Linked DNA regions of Homo sapiens: regions 1 and 3 are each linked to region 2. Evidence: fine-mapped expression QTL. A gene starts in region 2. Each other region holds a variant in brackets. All regions are shown on one strand. Distances are between the middles of the regions.

Region 1 (6,817 bases), 190 kb before region 2:
TTCACTATGTTGGCCAGGCTGGTCTTGAACTCCTGACCTCAGGTGATCCACCCACTGTGGCTTCACAAAGTACTGCGATTACAGGCATGAGCCACCACGCCTGGCCAAATGCCTTCGATTTTATGTGTACTTCATTTCACATAAATGTGCCCCAGACAGTGACTGGATCATAATAGACATTCAGTCGTGTTTATTGAATTAAATTGAAAACTTGAATGTAAATTGATATTCAGGGGTAAAGAAAAGCATGTTTATTTATTTATTTTTGTAGCTGGGACTATAGGCGCATGCTACCATGCTGGGCTAAATGTGTATTTAAATGGACAGGGAGAATTTGCCATAGTCGGTTCTTTTGTATAAGCATACTTTGATTACTTTTTTCAAGTTCATATTTATTCTATTAGATGTAGTAAATGTGATGTATGTTTGAAAATAGATTTCAGGGTATGTGTGGTTGGGGAATTCATGTGGAGGTCAGAGTAGAAGCAGATGTGAGAGGGTCAAGCAGAAGAAAACATGGCTGCCAAAGTGTTTGCGTCCATCGGCAAGTTTGGCCTGGCCTTAGCTGTTGCAGGAGGCGTGGTGAACTCTGCTTTATATAATGTGGATGCTGGGCACAGAGCTGTCATCTTTGACCGATTCCATGGAGTACAGGACATTGTGGTAGGGGAAGGGACTCACTGTCTCATCCCCTGGGTACAGAAACCAATTATCTTTGACTGCCGTTCTCGACCACGTAAAGTGCCAGTCATCGCCGGCAGCAAAGACTTACAGAATGTCAACATCACACTGCGCATCCTCTTCTGGGCCGTTGCTAGCCAGTTTCTCGCATCTTCACCAGCATCGGAGAGGACTATGATGAGCGTGTGCTGCTGTCCATCACGACCGGCATCCTCAAGTCAGCGATGACTCGCTTTGATGCTGGAGAGCTAATCACCCAGAGAGAGCTGGTCTCCAGGTAGGTAAGCAATGACCTTACGGAGCGAGCAGCCACCTTTGGGCTCATCCTGGACGACGTGTCCTTGACACATCTGACCTTCGGGAAGGAGTTCACAGAAGCGATGGAAGCCAAACAGGTGGCTCAGCAGGAAGTAGAGAGGGCGAGATTTGTGGTGGAAAAGGCTGAGCAGCAGAAAAAGGTGGCCATCATCTCTGCTGAGGGCGACTCCAAGGCAGCTGAGCTGATTGTCAACTCACTGGTCACCGCGGGGGACGGTCTAATCGAGCAGGAAGCTGTGGAAGACATCGCGTACCTGCTCTCACGCTCTTGGAACATCACCTATCTGCTGGCGGGGCAGTCCGTGCTCCTCCAGCTGCCCCAGTGAGGGCCCACACGGCCTCCACTTCCGCGGGCTGACCGGGCCACAGCCCCGGTGATTCTTAACGCCGCCTCCCTTCTGCTCCCACTCCAGAAATCACTGTGAAATTTCATGATTGACTTAAAGTGAAGGAAATAAAGGTAAAACCACTTCAGATCTCAAAAAATAAAAAAAGAAAGAAAATAGATTTCAGAAAACAATTACTTTAGGAGAAAAAAATCTTCAGTGGTTACAGTTTGAGGACTCATCAGTTCGAAGTGAAAATTCTCTCTAAGCAGATACTACTCTCCTTTTTCAGTTTTGTAGTCTCCTAAATTTACCTTCTCTGCTGACCTTTTAAAAGCTCCCTCTGGGCCTTAACTAGAGCAATAAAAATTGAGTTTGGCCAAGACTTTTACAAATTTTACTCTTGGGAGTCTCTCTGAACCTGTTCTGGGGTTCAGGGGCTGCCTGACAAAATACAAAAAAAGTTACTCTGTCTCAATTAATGTACATTGGGCGACAATAAGAGGTGGGGTGAAATATTCTCAACTGTCAATAAGAAACTTGAATGTCATACATAACAGTTATTAGAAGTGAGTTATGAATTCCTCATAAGTGGGATTTAAATGATGATATAAAATCATCGAGTTAGTTTCTCCTTGTCTCTCCTTTTTTTTTTTTTTGAGTTGAGTCTCACTCTGTCGCCCAGGCTGGATACAGTGGCGTGATCTCGGCTCACTGCCACCTCCACCTCCCTGATTCAAGCAATTACCCTGCCTCAGCCTCCCGAATAGTTGGGATTACAGGCGCACACCACCATGCCTGGCTAATTTTTTTTTTTTTTTTTTTTTTTTAGTAGAGACGGGGTTTCACCATGTTGGCCAGACTGGTCTTGAACTCCTGACCTCAGGCAATCTGCCCACCTCAGCCTCCCAAAGTGCTTGGATTACAGGCGTGAGCCACCATGCCCGGCCTAGTTTTTCCTTTTCTAATTATTTATCTTTAGCTATTCAGAGAAAAACTTTTGTGGCAGCAACACAATTACATTCATTTAGTAATTGAGAGTCAAACATTGTGTGCTAGGCTAAAGGGAATGCCCAGAACTTTAAGAACTGGTCCTTTCCTCAAAGGAACTTAGGCCACGTAGCTGTAAAATCAGTGTGCTTTTCATAGGTATTCTTGAAAAATACTTGAATAAATCCCAAGTTTAAAAATGATTTAAAAATGGTTAGGATGCAGTTCATTCAGTTCATTCTCATCTAACACTGTGTGTTTAAGAGGTGACCAAGAAGAAATACATGTACATTCCTTACAGTAGAATAAAGCCCCTTTGCAAGGGGGAGAATGGAAGCTGCGACATACTTCGTTGGTGGCCAATGGGCCTTTGTGAGTTCTTGGCACTTGGAAGCCTGTTTTCAGTATTTCAGGCTAAAATTCTCTTGCTTGTCAATAGAGAAGCCTTAATTTTTCTTTCTAAAGTCTCATCACATAGATTTTCTTTTTTTTTTTTTTCAAATGCTCATGGTAACACGGTAGTTATAAATATAGTTTTTTTTTTTTTTTTCTGAGACAGAGTCTCACTCTGTTGCCCAGGCTGGAGTATAGTGGCACCATCTCGGCTCACTGCAGTCTCCACCTTCTGGGTTTAAGCGATTTTCCTGTCTCAGCCACCCAAGTAGCTGAGTTAACAGGTGCTCACCACCATGCCCAGCTAATTTTTGTATTTGTATTTGTATTTTATTTATTTATTTTAAGACAGAGTCTCACTCTGTTGCCCAGACTGGAGTGCAATGGTGCGATCTCCACTCACTGCAACCTCTGCCTCCCGGGTTCAAGCAATTCTCCTTCCTCAGCCTCCTGAGTAGCTAGGATTATAGGCGGCCACTACC[G/A]CACCCGGCTAATTTTTGTATTTTTAGTAGAGACAAGGTTTTGCCACGTTGGCCACGCTTGTCTTGAACTCTTGATCTCAGGTGATCCACCCGCCTTGGTCTCCCAAAGTGCTGGGATTACAGGAGTGAGCCACCGCGCCCGGCCAGTGTATTTTTAGTAGATACGGGGTTTCACCATGTTGGCCAGGCTGGTCTCGAACTCCTAACCTCAAGTAATCCATCTGCCTCAGCCTCCCAAAGTACTGGTATTACAGGTGCGAGCCACCGCCCGGCCTCATAAATATAGTTGTTTATGAAAGACACCACCATTGGCCAATCATCAGAAGGGGAGCACTTTAGGTCTGTATTTCAGCAAGAGATTTACATTCCATAGATCCTTTCACTCTCATTCAATCAGAACTTTTTGTAGGCATTTATGAGATGGCTATTTGGGGTGACAGATATAATCTATGGCCATAGAACTGGGAAACACTGACTTGAATCATGTAAGCTACAGACAAATGAATAATTCATTGATTTAGTCACTCTTTAATTAATTTATTTATTCATTCTACTATTATGGACTGAGCACTGTTTTAAGTACTGAAGAATCCATGCTAAACAAGGATGAGTAGAGTCCCTACCTGTGGGTTACAGTATTGTGGGAGAGACTGACATTAATTGAATAACACAAACCAGTGTAATGAATACAGTGAATACAGTGGTGACACATGGTGTGAAGGTGAGGTCCTTGGAGCTATGCTACAGCATGTGCTAGAGGAAGCATGAAGGGCAAAAGGGAAACTGAAAAAGGTGGTGTGGCTGAGTCTCACAGAAGGAGAGGACTGTGGTACCTAGTACCACTGAAGGATGGGCAGAGACAGGCATTCAAGGGCTTGGAGGCAGAGTTAAGGAAGGACATCAAGCAGTGCTATCTTGTGATCAGATTTACGAGAAATGATGGTAGCTTGAATAGCATGGCTGTAGTCACGGAAGAAAGGGAGCTTGATGAGATATTTAGGAGACGGAATGAATAGACCTTGATGATTGAATAGATCTTAGAGATGAGGGAGAAATAAGGTCAAACATGATTCTCAGGTCTGTGGCTTGAGAAAATGGGAGAACACTTGTGGCATACACTGAGACAGGAAGTACTAGATGAGAACCAGAATTGGGAATAAAAACTACCCCTTGGTTTTAGACATGCTGAGTTGAGACATGTTGATATGGAAATCCAGCACTATTCAATAGAGCTTTCTGTGATGATGGAAGTGTTCTGTATCTACACTGCTGAGTATTTTAGCCATTACTCACATGTGGCTATTTACATTTAAGCTAAAATAAAAGATTTAGTTTCTCAGTTGCACTAGCCACATTTCAAGTGCCCAACAGCTATATGTGGCTAGTGATTTTTGCATTTGACAATGCAGTTCTAGAACCTAGAGAAGCAGCCTAGGTTGAAAATATAAAAAATTAGCCAGGCATGGTGGCTTATGCCTGTAATCTCAGCACTTTGAGAGGTCAATCCAGAAGAATTGCTTGAGGCCAGGAATTTGAGACCAGCTTAGACAACAAAGTGAGATCCTGCAGCTATAAAAAAAAATATGAAAATAGTCTGGGCACAGTGGCTCACGCCTGTAATCCCAGCACTTTGGGAGGCCGAGGAGGGCAGATCACCTGAGGTCGGGAGTTTGAGACCAGCCTGACAAGCATGGAGAAACCCCATCTCTACTAAAAATACAAAATTAGCCTGGCATAGTGGCGCATGCCTGTAATCCCAGTTACTTGGGAGGCTGAGGCAGGAGAATTGCTTGAACCGAGGAGGCAGAGGTTGCAGTGAGCCGAGATCTTGCCATTGTACTCCAGCCTGGGCAACAAGAGCAAAATTCCACCTAAAAAAAATAAATAAATACATAACAATTAAAAAGTTGAAAAAAATTAAATTTAGTCATACATGATGGTGTGCACCTGTAGTTCCAGCTACTCAGGAGGCTGAGGTAGAAGTCTTGCTTGATTCCAGGAGTTTGGGGCTGCAGTGAACTATGATAGCACCACTGCACTCCAGCCTGGGAACAAAGCAAGAGTCCACCTCTTAAAAAAAAAAAAAAAAAGAGAGAGATGTGTGTCGATGAGGTTTAAGACTGTGAAGACAACTTTCTAAGGAAGAAGTGAAGGTAGTCAGTGAAAAGAGGAAATGGCTAGGACTGAGACTACAGGACCTTCAACTTGTAAAGTCTGGTGAACAAAAATGAGCCTTCAAAGGATACCAAGAAGTAATCAGGGAGGTAGGAGAAAAACTGTAAGAGCCTTGTCATATAAGTCAAGTGAAAAGGGTGTTTTGAAAGGAATGAGCAACAGCTAAGTTGTTCTAGAAGGTTGAGGAAGATGAGACTGAAGATGTTTATTGGATCAGTGAAACACAGGCCATTGGTGACTTTGGCAAGAGCTGTTTCAGAGGAGGGATGAGGCTGAAAGGCAGACTAAATGAGTGAGGAGGGGGTGAGGTAATGGAGAGAGAACTGACAATAGAAGAAAATAAATCATGGGCTCCTTTTTCCACGGGCTACCAATAAAACAGGGAATTACTTTAGCCAAATCAAGCTAGAGTCATATATCATAGATATATGTCTTCAAACACTGAGTTTATCCTACAAAGTTACCAATTTTGAATCTTTTGTCATGATTATGAGGAGATATATGTGTGCTGGGTTTTCTTCCTACTCCAACTACCTTGGAGGGTGGGTATGAAATAGACCATGTGAAGGCTTAGAGGCCATGTTGAAGTATTCTTTATCCTAACAGCAATAAAAAGCAACTGAAGGCTTTTCTTTTTTAAGTCATTTTATTATCTAAAATTTAGAGCATACAGAAGAAGAGAGAAAAATGTAACTCATCACTCCCGGGTATTATTCATCACCTGACCCTAACACCCTTCAGCCTTTAGTCCTGGCCCATCCATACCCCATCTACTTAGATGAGAAGTTTTAACCACAGGAGTGATATAATTACACTTGTGTTAAAAAGACCATTCTTGCTGCTGGGTAGAGCAAAAGTCAGCACATTTCCAGGTAGTAAATATTTTAGGCTTTGCTGGCTGTACAGGCTCTGTTGCAACTATTTAACTCTTGTTGTAGCTTGAAAGCCGCACTAGACAATACATAAATAAATAAGTGTGTCTGTGTTCCAATAAAACCTTATTTATGGACACTGAAATTTGAATTTCATATAGTTTTTGCATGTCACAAAATATTCTTCATCTTGTTTTGATTTTCCCCCTCACAATTTAAAAATGTAAAAATGATTTTTGCTCATAGGCAATACAAAAACAGGCAGAAGGCCAAATTTGGGCTGTAGTTTGCTAAGCTCTAGGGTAGAGAATGAATTGCAGCAGGCAAGAGAAGTTGTGGGAAGACTTGCCCAAGGCTATTGCAAGAATCAGAACAAAAATCTCGCTATTCCTGTACCTAGTAAAGAGAAAAGACAGCATGGTAAGCATTTATTAGGTACTATACCATTGAGTATCTATTATTCCCTAGGCACAATGTTAGGGCTAAAGATATACAAATAAATGAGTAAGAAATCGTTTTTGCCTTGCAGCTAGTTAGGGAGACAGATGTGGTTTTTTTCTGTCATGTTGTAAATACCACA
Region 2 (6,817 bases):
CATTCTGAAACTGTCAGGCCCAGGAGAGAGAATTCTGCAGTTAGCTTGCACCCATCTTTTCCCTGAAGTTATAGTTATGCAAGACAACAAGCTTTGCAAACTTTAATCATCTGAAAAGAACACTTGGACCGCTGGGTGCAACCAGAGTGATTTATCTTCCTTTCTAAGGGGATAATACAGCCTTGATCCTTTTGACTGAGAGGAGCCATGTATAGATACAGCTCAGCATCCCCACTTGGCTGGTGTGCACAGAGAAGAGGCAGCATTCACCTGGGCTCTTTGCCGAGAAGTGTTCTTATTAAGGAGGTGCTGCCAGGCGTGTGTCAGTTGTGTCTGCACACCCTCATCAACCTCTTAGTGGATCCTCAGGCTGCCTGGCAAGGAGCTGGCACTGGTTCCTGTGGTGCCTGGGGTGTGAGGCTGGAGAGACATCTGTCCAGGTGGACAGAGACAGTGGATGCAGGCTGCTTCCTCCTGGGTACCTGGCTGGAGAACACATAGATGTTTGCTGTCTGCTCATGAGGCGCTGGGGAGCAGAGACTTCTCAACTCCACTTGTTCTTTTTGTGCCTGGATACAAGGAAGGCTCTATTTTCAGTGGCTCAGACCTGCCAGCCTCGATGAGGAAGGGTTTGTTTGCACAGCATCTGGATGTGGGAGCGAGGTAATTCAGGCAGGTGGGGTAGGAAGGAGATTGCTAACCTCGAAGGAGTTCCCTTGTGCAGAAGGAAAATTACCAGCTGTGCTTATTCTGTGATTGGATGGAGGAAGGGCTTGTTCATTTTAGTCAGTCTAAGGGGAATGTTTCTGGGAGGTGTAGGGGAGAAAGAGGCAAGAAAAACAATCCCATAGGATCCTTGCTAATGAACTAATGACCCTGCCGGAAGGTGTCAGGTCCATTATACCTGGTGCACGTTTATCCACAGCACATCTCATACCTGTAGGTGTATATTCATGCAACAAATATTTATTGAGTCCCTACTATGTTCCAGGAGCTTTCTAGGGTTCAGGAATACAACAATGAGTAAAACAAACAGGGGTAATTGTCCTCGTGGAGATCAGAGCCTTATGGGGTGGAGAGGCATTAATTAAATGATTACAGGAATCGGTGCGGGACAGGGTCTTGCAGGTTGCTATGAGAGCGTATAAGAGGGGAAAATGGCTTAGTATGAGGTGTGGAGTTGTCCAGAAAACCTTTTCTGGGGCACCCAGGTCTACTGGATGAACAGGGCTGGGGTGGGGAGAAGAACATTTCAGGTGGAGGGCACAGAAGGTGTCAAGCCCTGAAGCAGGACAGAACACAACATTCCAGGAATGGAAAGAAAGCCAGGAGGGGAGAATGGAGCAGGAGGAAAGGTAGGCAGGGCCAGCTGCTCAAGGTCTAATGGGCTGTGCAAAATCCCCCTTACTCTTCTCCCAGGAACAGTGGGCAGCCATTGGAGGTTTTAAGCTTGGCAGTGACACAGCCAAGATTTGCAATGACCATTCTGTTTTGACTGAATGGAGTTGTGGTTCTGGTTTTAGGGGTGGTTGGGGCCACCCAAGTGAGACCGTGTCAACTGTGTGGGCCGGTGAAAATGTAACTGTGAACACTAGATGAGCTTAATAGTGGGCAGATGTGGAATCAAAGGGAAAGTGATGTTGAGGGAAGGAAGACGGGGTCCCCAAGGGGGCATGGACCATAGTCTTTCTGAGGCTAGCTTTAGCCTCTGAAGGCCATTTTGGCCTTGAATTTCTTTTTCTTTCTTTCTTTCTTTTTTTTTTTTTCAGGCAGGGTTTCATCACTCTGTCACCCAGGCTGGAGTGGGTGACTCACTGCAGCCTTGACCTGACCTCCTGGGCTCAAGTGATCCTCCTACCTCAGCCTCTTGAGTAGCTGGGACTACAGGCATGCACCACCATGCCCAGCTAATTTTTCTTTTTTTTTTTTTAGAGACTGGGTCTTGTTATGTTGCCCAGGCTGGTCTTGAACTCCTGGGCTCATGCAATCCTCCTGCCTCAGCCTCCCAAAGTGCTGAGATTACAGATCTGAGCCACCATGCCTGGCCTGGCCTTGAGTTTCTGATGAAACCTGGGAAACCACATGTTTTTCTGAACACCTGGGAGCAACCCTTCTTTCTACTTGCTCAGACCTACCCACCTAGCTAAGTGCTTAACACGTGGACTGTCATTGGCTTAGAAGGTCAGAGTTGGAGGCCTCAGAGGTCGGCTGGTCCAGAGCTTCTCAGAGGGCATCCCTGGATCCTTGTATTAGCATCATCTCTGTGGTACTGGTTTAAAAACTGCAGATTCCTGGGTCTTACTTCAGACCTCCTGAATTAGAACTCTTTTTTGGGAGGGATGGGGGTGGAGGATTTGTGGTAGCACCTATTAGGGAATCAGCATTTTGAGCGAGTGCTCCAGGGGATTCTTCTGCACACTATATTTGTTTCCTGCGTCTTCTGTAACAAATGACCACAAATATGGTGGCTTAGAACAACATACATGTATTCTGTCACCGTTCTGGAGGCCAGAAGTCCCAAGGCTGTGAAATCGAGGTGTTGGAAGGCCCACATCCCTCCAGCGGCTCTAGGGGAGAATCCATTCTTGCCCCTTCCAGCTCCTGTGGCTGCTGGTGTTCCCTGGAGTGGGGCAGGATCTCGCTAACCTCTGCCTGCCTCATTTCATCACCTCTCCTTTTTGTCTATTGTCAAATCTTCTTCTGCCTTCCTCTTAGGACACTTGTGTATTTAGGGTCAGGATAATCTTCCCATCTCGAGATCCTTAACTTAGTCATAGCAGCAAAAACCCTTTTCCCAGATAAGGGACTATTTACAGGTTCTCAAGATGAGGACCTGGTATCCTTGGGGGACCATTTTCTAGTGTGCCACAAACACTGAAGTTCAAAAAGCATTGGTGTGGTTGACATCCTTCGGGTAGACCAGATGTAGGAAACTGGAGCCCAGAGAGAAGTGACTAATCCAAGGTCATACAGCTTGTAACTCACTTCTGAGATTGGAATCAAGGCTCCTGATTCCAAGGCCTTTCTGGGAATCCTGGCTTCAAGGAATAGTGATACCTGACATTCACTGAATGTTACTTCATACTGTTCTAAGCAGATGACATGTACTATCTCATCACTCTTCCGAACAACCCTTTGTGGTAGGCTCTCCTATGCTCTTCCAGTTTATAGATAAAAAAACTTAGGAGAAAAGAGGTTAAACAACTTGCCCAACATGACAGAGCAAATTACCGGGGGAGCTGGGATAGAAACCGAGGCAGTCAGAGGCCAAAGCGTTCACTCACAGGTGGAACCTCCTCCAGTCAGGCTTATTCCAAATCTGGCCTGTGAATCACTACTCTCTGGTATTTTTTGCCTTCCTAGGAAATATGCACCAAAACATTTCTGGCAGGAAAGGAGGCCCCTGTAACTACTTGCCTTCTTCCTGCTCAGAGCCATGCCTCCAATTCCTTGATGAATATTTGCTTCAAGCTGCTCAATAAGCCTTCTCATCTCAGTCAATGGGCTTGAAGCAAGGTAAGCAGGTCTTGCAAAGAGGTGTGTGGAGGGAATGCCGGGGTGGGGTCAAGATCCTAATGGATTTCTTAGGCTAATGGCCTGGGATGGGCCCTGGAAAGTTCCCAGACCCCAAATTATTTGCAAAAGGCAGAAGAAGAAGGTGGGGCAGATTGGCCTGGACCTTGGGTACATATTTGTCCCTGGCCATGACTCACTTCCTTCTGGAACAGGGCCTCAGGTGAAATGTTTGTCTGCTCCACCTCCTTTAGTGCCTTATAGCTCCCCTCCCAGTGGAGCAGGTGTCTGAGAGTACAGTGCAGCCCTGCCCTTCTGTCCACCCTACAGAGCCCACGGCCATGGCAGCCCAGGCAGCTGGTGTATCTAGGCAGCGGGCAGCCACTCAAGGTCTTGGCTCCAACCAAAACGCTTTGAAGTACTTGGGCCAGGATTTCAAGACCCTGAGGCAACAGTGCTTGGACTCAGGGGTCCTATTTAAGGACCCTGAGTTCCCAGCATGTCCATCAGCTTTGGGCTACAAGGATCTTGGACCAGGCTCTCCGCAAACTCAAGGCATCATCTGGAAGCGGCCCACGGTAAGGAAGCGGGCTTGCTGTTGAGTGACATACAAGGTGGAGGGGCCTTACATCTGATCAGGAGGAACTGAGGGAGAAGTTGAGGCTGTGGACCCTAAGTGTCTGGATCTCATATTTCAGATCCCTCCACCACCACCTTTTTTAATTTTATTTTTTTGAGATGGAGTCTTGCTCTGTCACCCAGGCTGGAGTGCAATGGCATGATCTCAGCTCACTGCAACCTCTACCTCCTGGGTTTGAGTGATTCTCCTGCCTCAGCCTCCCGAGTAGCTGGGATTACAGGCATGTGCCACCATGTCTGGCTAATTTTGTATTTTTAGTAGAGATGGGGTTTCTCCATGTTGGTCAGGCTGGTCTCAAACTCCCAACCTCAGGTGATCCATCTGCCTCAGCCTTCCAAAGTGCTGGGATAGCAGGCATGAGCCACTGCATCTGGCCCCCCCATCACCTTTTGAACTCTTATTTTTTTTGAGGCAGAGTCTCACTCTGTCACCCAGACTGGAGTGCAGTGGTGCGATCACAGTGCACTGCAACCTCAACCTTCCTGGGCTCAGGTGATTTTCCTACCTTAACCTCCCAAGTAGCTGGGATTATAGGCACGTGCCACCACACCCAGCTAATGTTTACATATTTTTGTAGAGACAGGGTTGTGCTGTGTTGCCCAGGGTGGTCTTGGACTCCTGGGCTTAAGCCATCTGCCCACCTCAGCCTCCCAAAGTGTTAGGATTACAGATGTGAGCCACTACACCCAGCCTGAACTCTTGTTCAGAGATGGTGAGGTATAGAGAGAAGAGCATGGATGAGCTTTGGAACTAGGTAAGATAGATTTGAATCCTAGCTCTGCCTGTGTTGTTTTGGGCCGGTAAACTCTGTGAACCTTAGTTTTCTCATCTGTAAAATGGCATTTACTGGCACCTTATTTTTCAGGGTTGGTATGAGAATTAGAGATAAATCTCAGAGCATAGTGCCCAGAACATAATAGATGCAGAATACGTAGTTGTTATTACTGCATATGGTCCCTGGGCCAGTGCACAATGGAACAACTCAGTGCTGGATGCAATCAGCTGGCAGGTAAATTGTGACAACATCATTGCTGAAAGGTGCACGGTTGCGCAAGGTCATGAATTGACATTATTCCATCAGGGCTGGTGAGTGGAGAGGTGGGAGCTGGGGCTCTGTGGATGCAGACGGAAGGCAGAGGCTCCTGGATGCGGTTACTGATACTACCCAAAGCTCAAGGGCAAGGGATGGAGAACAGTCCTCCCAAAACCTAGACCCATGACCTATCACTATGTGACCCTTGTCAAGTGATTCCTCAGGGATGAGAACCTCTCCCATACAGAGTGGTTGTGAGAATTGAGCTCATCCATACAAAGTGCTCTGTTCAACAGAGCTCATAACAACGTCTCAGGAGAGGGGCTATGAAATGACCTGGGCACCTTTTGTCTTCTAAACCATGATAGGGAAATTAAGTCAGGGTTCCTATTTTCTTGGCAGTGGTTGAAACAGGAAGACAAAGGGAGAGTACTTCTTCTAAAATGGTCAAAATCACTATTTAACTCCAGCTAGCTACCTCTACCCTTTTTACTTTGATCCTGCTGATTTTGCCTAACAGTTTTCATCTCTGAGAATAACTCCTTGGCCATGCTGCCCTCCCGCCCACCGTGGTTCATCTTCCCATTCCCCTCTGAAACCTATAGGGTTACCCTGGTATGTTGATAAAATCCAGATTGGGAGTAATGGTTTTTATTCTAATTTCAAGACAGCCACATTTCATTTCAACAGACAGTTTTTTTGAGCTTCCATTTTGTGCCAGGCATGGGCTCTGCACTGATTGGAAAGGTGGTCAGGGAGAAGCTGAGGAAGGAGCTGTGGTCTCAGCTCTGATGGAAAGTGTGGGGAGACACAGGTGTGAATAAAGGACAGATGCCCAAGGCAGAATGAAGTAAGAACTCTACAGAGGCATAAATGATGGGCCATGGGAACCTGGGTTGTCACAACTGGGTGGTGAAAAGCCTTAGGGAGGGGTACCATTGCAGATCCCAAGGGTCTTGGGGGAGAGGAAGGAGGGGGAGAAAATTTTCCTTTAGAGACCAAAGTCAGGTATCAGTTAACCTTTGCTTAGTTTTTCTCCTTTCTTTGAAATCCTTAGAGACTTTACCTCCTTAACCACATAGCCTGTTCTTCCCCAAACTATGTCTTCACCTGTCCTCGTGGTCTGTGGAAATGCGGTAATTGTAGACTGGATGTGCTGATTTGTGGCTGTCAAAGGAGGAAGTAAAATTCAGAGCATGAGGCAGTAGAACCTGAGTAATGCGGAAGGTGCAATTGAAGGACTCCTATTTGGAGTTTTCAAGTGCGTGTTGAGTAAATAAATGCGTGTCAAAATTTAACCTCTCCTTCCCTAATCATCAGTGAAAAATTATCACACAGCTGCTTTTGGGCAGGCTCATGCTCACATACCACAAGGGTACATTAGAGAAGGCAGACTTATCCTCTAAGATCTTACAGTTATTGAATAGACTCCTGAATCAGTAAAGATTCTGATCCTATCTCTATGAGGAACATGCATTGAATGCTGAGAAAATTAGCCTGATCCTAAATGCTTCATTATTATTTTTTCCTCCCAAGAGGCCTTTCAAGGGTTTGCAAAGAGATCAGGGTATCCAGAAATGTGGTGCATTGTAAGTTCATTTGTTGCATTTACTCATTTATTTTTAAATTGT
Region 3 (6,817 bases), 110 kb after region 2:
AAAATCATATATGTGTGATGAGATATGATGTGTTTATCATTTTTTCTTCTAAAAATCTAGATGTATTTTTAGATTAGCATATCTTCTATGTAAACAGCATGGTAGGCGTTAATATCCTCATTCTGCAGGTGAGGAAACAGCCCCAGAGAGGCTGAGAGTAGTCGGATGCAGGGAGCATCTTCTCTGACGATCATTCCAGAGGGTGGTGGAGAAGTGCATGGGCTGGAGTTTAATCCTGGCTTCACTGTTTACTAGCTGTGTGATCTTGGCCTGTTACATAACATTTAAAATGAAGTAACATTTAAAATTCCAGTTTGTCCATTGGTGAAGTGAGGACAGTAATGAGAGGAACCTCACAGGACAGTGGTGAATATTAAATGAAATAATCCACGCAAAGTACCTGACAGGTAGTAAGTACTCAACAAAGACAAGTATTATTACTACAGTGGTTATCTTTATGAGTACAGCATCATCAAGCTATATTGGGCCTTTTGTACTCATCTTAGTGATAGTTTTGAAAGAAATTAACCCGGCTTTCTAGAAATTTCGTGTCATCTGGGAAGCTGTCACTTTTCCATTCTGTCTTGTGGTGACAACTGGGCATTGTCCTATTTTGGGCAGAGCCCATTGTCACATCAGAAAGTCTCTGGACAGAAGCATTCATATAATGGTTTGTAATTTCCAAAGGACTTTGACCCACATTAGCTCTCATTTGATTCCTAAAATGGCCCCATGAAAATGGTCTGGTTAAATCAATAACAGAGTGGAGGCCATGGATGTTCAGAGCCCTGAGATAGTGTCCAGTAAGGGTACAATCTGCTATTTGAACTCCAGTCTCCTGGCTTCTAGTTCTACTCTTTCTACTAGGCCATGTTCTCAACACTTTTGAAATCATGTTGCTCTTCGTGAATCTGATGAAAGCTAAGAAAATGTTTTTTTTTTCTGATATAAGGTCTCGCTTTATCACCCAGGCTGGAATACAGTGGCACAGTCTTGGCTCACTGTGGCCTCAGCCTCTGAAGTAGATGGGACTACAGGCGTGCACCACTACACCCAGCTAATTTTTGTATTTTTTGTAGAAATGGGGTTTCACCGTGTTGCCCAGGCTACTATCGAACTCCTGGGCTTACGTGACCTGCCCGCCTCAGCCTCCCAGAGTATTAGGATTTCAGGTGTGAGCCACTGCACCCAGCCAAAAATGCATTTAGATATGACCCCATGTTTTCACGCAATTTCTGGAGTTCAGACTCCCTGGAAAATTATCAGTGATTCCCTTAGGAGTCCACAGATTCACACCAAGATTTTCTGGTGTCAGTGTCATTTTCTGAAAGTTGTTCAGGTTGTAATCAGAAATTCAGGGTTGGTGGGGCTCACTTCCCCAAATCACTTAGAGAGAAAACTGCTAGGCCCCAGCGCTGCCTCTCTGCTCATCCCTGCTGGACTGTAAGCTCCCTGGGGCCAGGACCTTTGCTGTCTCTTGGTTTGCCACCATGTGCCCCCACTTAGCCCAAAGCCTGGCACATAGTAGGTGCATCATAGATACTAATGGATGAAGGAATGAATTTTAAATCTTCGTCTTTCATTCTCCTTGACGATTCCCATTTTAACTTTGCAAATGTCCTTCTTTTTAGCCACATCCCAGTGAGGTGGATCAGGAAGATGACCAGTTCAGGAGGCTGTTTGAGAAGTTGGCAGGGAAGGTGAGTGGAGGGCGAACATGGCTTCCCAGGTGGGCAGGAGAATATTCAGGAATGCTCAGGTCACTTCATTCTTTACTCCCTGAGGTCTCTAGGCATAAAAAGGGTGAGACTCAGGTCTCAGGGGCCCCCAGCTTCTGTGCCCATCACCATCCTGTCTTAAGATTGAGTACCTTTCCTTCATCACTTGGGAATTGGTCCTGAGGCTACTTATCTTGCTGCGTTGACTGACTCTTGAGAAAATAGAAAAGCCAGATCTCCAGGTCCTGCCAAAAGCCTTTCTGTTTGCAGATTGGCCCTGTCAGATTGGGGTCTCTGAATAAAAAGCTGGGATGGCAAAACCTCTCCAAATAGATATCCTTCAGAGTGAGGATTGCCCAGCCGCAGTGGAAGGCAGCTCAGCTAACCTGGCTTGGGATTAGTGTGCAGGACTAGCCCTGTTCCCTGTCACCGTCCTGCAGCCCTGCCCGCCCTCTGGGAGACCAGCAGCCTGAGGAATCCAAGCTTTGCCCGACATGAATGCAACTTGGGCACTTGGAGCAGAGAAAGAAGCGACCCCTGATCCTTCTCCCCTGCCCTGGCTTCCGTTCACTTTGGTAGCAGCCCGGTGGGGGCCACAAGTCAAAGCATAACCAGGACTTGAAATGTCAAAACCGGCCCCATAAATACAGCGAATGTGTTACTCTTTGGAGGATAATAAAGTGTGTGAAAAGGGCCCGGAAGAGGAAAAAACAATGGTCTCCCCCCACCACCCCGGGAAACTCAGGGTGACTTTCTAGACTTAAGGATAAAATAGAAGAAAAGATATCAGAATCCCTTGCAGGAAATAAAACCTGGGAACAGTTCCTTTGCATAGCCATTGAATAAAACCCTTGCAAAGATGAGCCAATTTATGTTTTAGATGGATTTACAGGCCAGTATTTTTGCTAACAAAACCTGTTTCCTTAGCTGCCAAGGGCCATATTTTATTAAGAACACCAAGAATGATGAAAGGAAAAGCTCATATTTGCATAGTTCTTCATGCACTTTATCTTACCTTTCTCTCTGGCTGCATGGGGCAGTATTGGTCACTCTCCTTGCTCGGCTTGTAAAGTGGCCTGCACAGAGAGGTTAAGGAGCTGGCTGAGGGTACAAGGCCTCATGAACGACGGGGTCAAGGTCCAAATGTAGACTCTTGACATCCCATTTCTTTCCTGGCAGGCTAATGGGGGTAGTCTTCTAGCCCCAGAGGCTTTTTAAAGGGGCCTCAAGTCTTTTTTTTTTTTTTTTTTTTTTGAGATGGACTGTTGCTCTGTGACCCAGGCTGGAGTGCAGTGGTGCACGGCTCACTGCAACCTCTGCTTCCCGGGTTCAAGCGATTCTCGTGCCTCAGCCTCCCGAGTAGCTGGGACTGCAGATGCCAGCCAC[A/C]ACGCCTGGATAATTTTTGCATTTTTAGTAGAGACAGGGTTTCGCCATATTGGCCAGGCTGGTCTCGAACTCCTGACCTTAGGTGATCCACCCACCTCGGCCTCCCAAAGTGCTGGGATTACAGGTGTGAGCCACCGTGCCTGGCCCAGGTCCTCAGGTCTTATTATTGGGACTGACCACTCTGTGCTGGGGTGAGGCCAGTTGTCCTCAGAGGAGACACTGCTTTGTGCAGCTCTTGCCTCTCTCATTTCCAGTAGAATTGCCAGGGCCTGGCTAGCGGAGGATGGGAAGATGGAAAGTGACTCGGCTAAAGTCACATGATGAATAAGGGGCTGAGTTGAGACTGGGACCCAGACATCAGCCCAGCACGCCTTCTCTGCATTTCCTTGGTCATCCTGCCTGAGATCTGCTCTCCATCTGAGAGTTAAGGGATGACTCTTCCCTCTGGCTCAGTGTTTATCCCAGATGCACACAGAATATGCTATTCTCTCAATCTCTGCCCCCAGTTTGAGATGGGCTCCTATGTGAAATACCAACTCCTGTAGGTGTGGTGGGGAAAGCCGGCACTTTGGGGTGAACCAACCTTAGGTTTCCAAGTCTAGCTCTGCCTCTTGGTAGCTACAAACCACAAGCAATTACGTCACATGAAAATGACAAATGATGTTGCATGTATACAGTGTTCAGCAGTTTACAAAATCACGACTTCCTTAACTTGAAAATGGCTGTGGAATTGTGCTGAGGATTTAAGGATCTTCCACACTGGCTCTGGCACATCTGGTTCAATCCTATCACTGCTGTTCCTGTTACTTTATCCCTGTTCAAGCGAGCCCTGTGAAAGGCAGCAGGACCCTGGCATGGCAGCCTTCTGCCACGGTGTGTACCACACTCATGGCACTAACACACCTCTGGCCAGGCTGCTGGGATCCCCAAAAGAAGAGGATAATTTGAGTTTTTAAAGATGCCACCTGCTTTTAAAATCACAGGGCCAGCCGGGCACGGTGGCTCATGCCTGTAATCCTAGCACTCTGGGAGGCTGAGGTGGGCAGATCACGATGTCAGGAGTTCAAGATCATCCTGGCCAACATGGTGAAACCCCGTCTCTACTAAAAATACAAAAATTAGCCAGGCGTGGTGGCACGCATCTGTAGTCCCAGCTACTTAGGAGGCTGAGGCAGGAGAATTGCTTGAGCCTGGGAAATGGAGGTTGCAGTGAGCAGAGATTGCGGCACTACACTCCAGCTTGAGTGACAGAGTAAGACTGTCTCAAAAAAAAACAAAAAACAAAAACAAATAAACCTCACAGGGCCAGTGGGCCTGGTGTCTGACTGTGAGGAAGCACTGCATTAATTTACTGTCTTGAAACAACTTGTCAGGGCCTGACATGATTTGCATTTGGGTTCCTCTTTCTAGGATTCTGAGATTACTGCCAATGCACTCAAGATACTTTTGAATGAGGCGTTTTCCAAGAGTAAGTTCCTTCTTGGGGTCTTTCAGAAAGTCCGTAGGAGATGCTGGGGCAGGGTGAGGGATGGGTAGGCAGGCATTGGGCTGGCAGCACCACAGGTGGGAGAAAGGGCATTGGTGTCTGACCCCAGGAGCCCTGATTCAGTCCAGCAAGACAAGAGGGGAAGAAGGAGAGGCAGAAGACGGGGAGGCGAGGGTGGAGGTGAAGGCGGGGCTGGTGCTGGCAAGCAGCCAGCACCTGAAGGAACAAAGCTCCATAGTGTCAAGTGAAATTGCAGGCTGAGTCCCAGGAGAAAAAGAGCTGGGCTGGGATTGACTTAAGTGAATTTTTTTCACAAAATTAATAACTTGGATACTGTGGAAACCTCTGCAGATGAAAGATCTAGTTCTGTAGCTCATCTTGAGGGAAGGAGGAAGGAAGGGATGATTCTGACTCTCCTAGACTGTCCTCAGTTCCCCATCTTCAGATTTTTGCAAGCCTCAGAGCTGTCAGGAGGAAAGATTTGCATCTCCCCTCTGAGCCCCAGCCCACAGGAGGACACAGGGAGCTGGTTTCTTTCCGGGTCCAGGGATGGGCCAGGTTAAGTCTTCCAGTGAGTGATGGGCTCTCATTCACTCACTGCAGCAGGACAGGGCTTGAGAATGCAGGAAGCAGGGGCTTGGCCCAGGAGCCAAGTCATACCCTTCCCAGGGACGAACCCAGGGCTGAGCAGATGGATCCCCAGGGCTCGGAGCACAGGCCCGTCTCCTCTCCACACCACTCTTGCTCCTGCAGTTGTTGAAGAGTGGAGAGAAAGAGAAGGGGTTGCAGGGTCTTTGGCACCTGTCTTGGCTCCCAGGTATATGGAAGGTGAGGGTGGAGGCCAGGGATGGAGCTCCAGTGACATGCCTGCAATTTAGTAAGGAAGGATAGCTGCTGTCATTGAGTGGCTGTGTGTTGTGATTACAAGCTCAGGCTGTGGAGCTGGCTGGCCTGCATTTAACTCCTAGCTTTGCCCCCTACTGGTTGTGACCTTGAGCAAATCATATAACCTCTCTGGGACTCAGATTCCTGATCTATAAAGTGGGTATAATGATAGCATCTACCACACGGAGTGATTTTGAAGAGTAGATGTGCAGTGCTTATAACAATACCTAGCCATATAAAGTTAGCTGTTTTATTAAGAACTTATCATATATCAAGCCTGGGCTAAAACTTCACTTTCATTATCTCAGTTAATACCCAGCCAGTCTTTGGGGCAAGTATGGTCATTGTTACTATCATGATTATTCCCATTTGATGGAGGAGGAAATTAAAGCTCAAAGATATTAATTTGCTGAAGTCTGTGGCTTGTGGGGAGCCAAGCCAAGGTTCAGATGCTGTACTTGGATGCTGGTGCTTGTCTGTTCTATCTCCCACGGCACCAGGAGGCTCAGGCGTATCTGCCCACAAGCCTGCCATGATGCTCTCCCCTTTTGGCAGAGACCAAGTTCGGTTCCACACCCTTGGATGGTATCTTTGGAGGTCTTCTACCGTGGAGGTTCTTTCCCTCACCTTCAAATGATCCGATTCCCACTCCCCTTTTCTATTTAAATCTTTAGGAACAGACATAAAATTCGATGGATTCAACATCAACACTTGCAGGGAAATGATCAGTCTGTTGGATGTATCCTTTAAATGTTGCATTATTTTTTTTTTTTTACTTTCGTCCGGTTTTTAAAGACTCCTCCACCTTTTCCAGTTAGAAGGAAGGGACGGGTAAAAAATGAGAAGGGGAGAGAGCAGGCATGGAGCATATGTCAAGGATTGTACTTGAAGCCTCAAAGGAAAATGTATCATATCATGGATGTGTCTCAGAAAGCTTGAGATTATCTCCGTTTCACAGGTGAAGAAACCGAGGTGTGCAGTGTTTAGGTGACTTATTTAAAATCATGTAATCTGGAGGTAGCAAGCATGGGGCATTTGCGCACCTGCTCCCTCCACACTCTGTTCATCTCTTCATCTTCCTCCTCCCCTTCAATTCTACCCGTCCCCACCCCCACCCTCTACCGTTCCCTGCTTCCCAAGCTCTCCCCATCACTATCTGATCTTTGCTTCAGAATCTTAACATGGCTTGTGGACAGCTACTACTGATAGTTTAGAGTTATCACACAAGATAAAATCTATTTGTTCTCCCTGATCTAGTTTAACCCTCACTTGATATTGAAGTATGGTGTGTTAGGCTGTTCTGGCTGCTGTAACAGGAGACCATAAACTGGGTGGCTTATAA

Alleles and levels. Alleles are on the strand shown, and positions count from the first base shown. SD is a standard deviation of normalised expression in the study named.
For the expression in subcutaneous fat of the gene that starts at base 3,800 in region 2, A is the high allele of the variant in region 1 and G is the other (small effect, 0.28 SD a copy in GTEx).
For the expression in rectum of the gene that starts at base 3,800 in region 2, allele C in region 3 goes with a higher level than allele A (moderate effect, 0.63 SD a copy in CEDAR).

Evidence for each region. PIP is the estimated chance that this variant, and not a neighbour inherited with it, causes the effect. A credible set is the group of variants that fine-mapping cannot tell apart.
Region 1: its variant is the best candidate, but not a certain one, in a credible set for the expression of CAPN8 in subcutaneous fat (GTEx, PIP 0.80).
Region 3: its variant is the best candidate, but not a certain one, in a credible set for the expression of CAPN8 in rectum (CEDAR, PIP 0.56).

The regions. Positions count from the first base shown.
Region 1 is chr1:223,851,087-223,857,903 of GRCh38, reverse strand. It overlaps the pseudogene PHB1P11. Among named protein-coding and RNA genes, the nearest start is that of TP53BP2, 8.5 kb to the right of the region's middle. The variant G/A (reference allele first, on the strand shown) is at 3,191.
Region 2 is chr1:223,662,684-223,669,500 of GRCh38, reverse strand. It overlaps CAPN8 (calpain 8), which reads left to right and starts at 3,800. Exons shown (of 21, transcript NM_001143962.2): 1 at 3,800-4,091. The coding sequence starts at 3,855.
Region 3 is chr1:223,548,715-223,555,531 of GRCh38, reverse strand. CAPN8 (calpain 8) reads left to right here. Exons shown (of 21, transcript NM_001143962.2): 14 at 1,632-1,700; 15 at 4,515-4,572; 16 at 6,150-6,214. Among named protein-coding and RNA genes, the nearest start is that of CAPN8, 110 kb to the left of the region's middle. RefSeq lists enhancers at 4,267-4,326, 4,727-4,776. The variant A/C (reference allele first, on the strand shown) is at 3,105.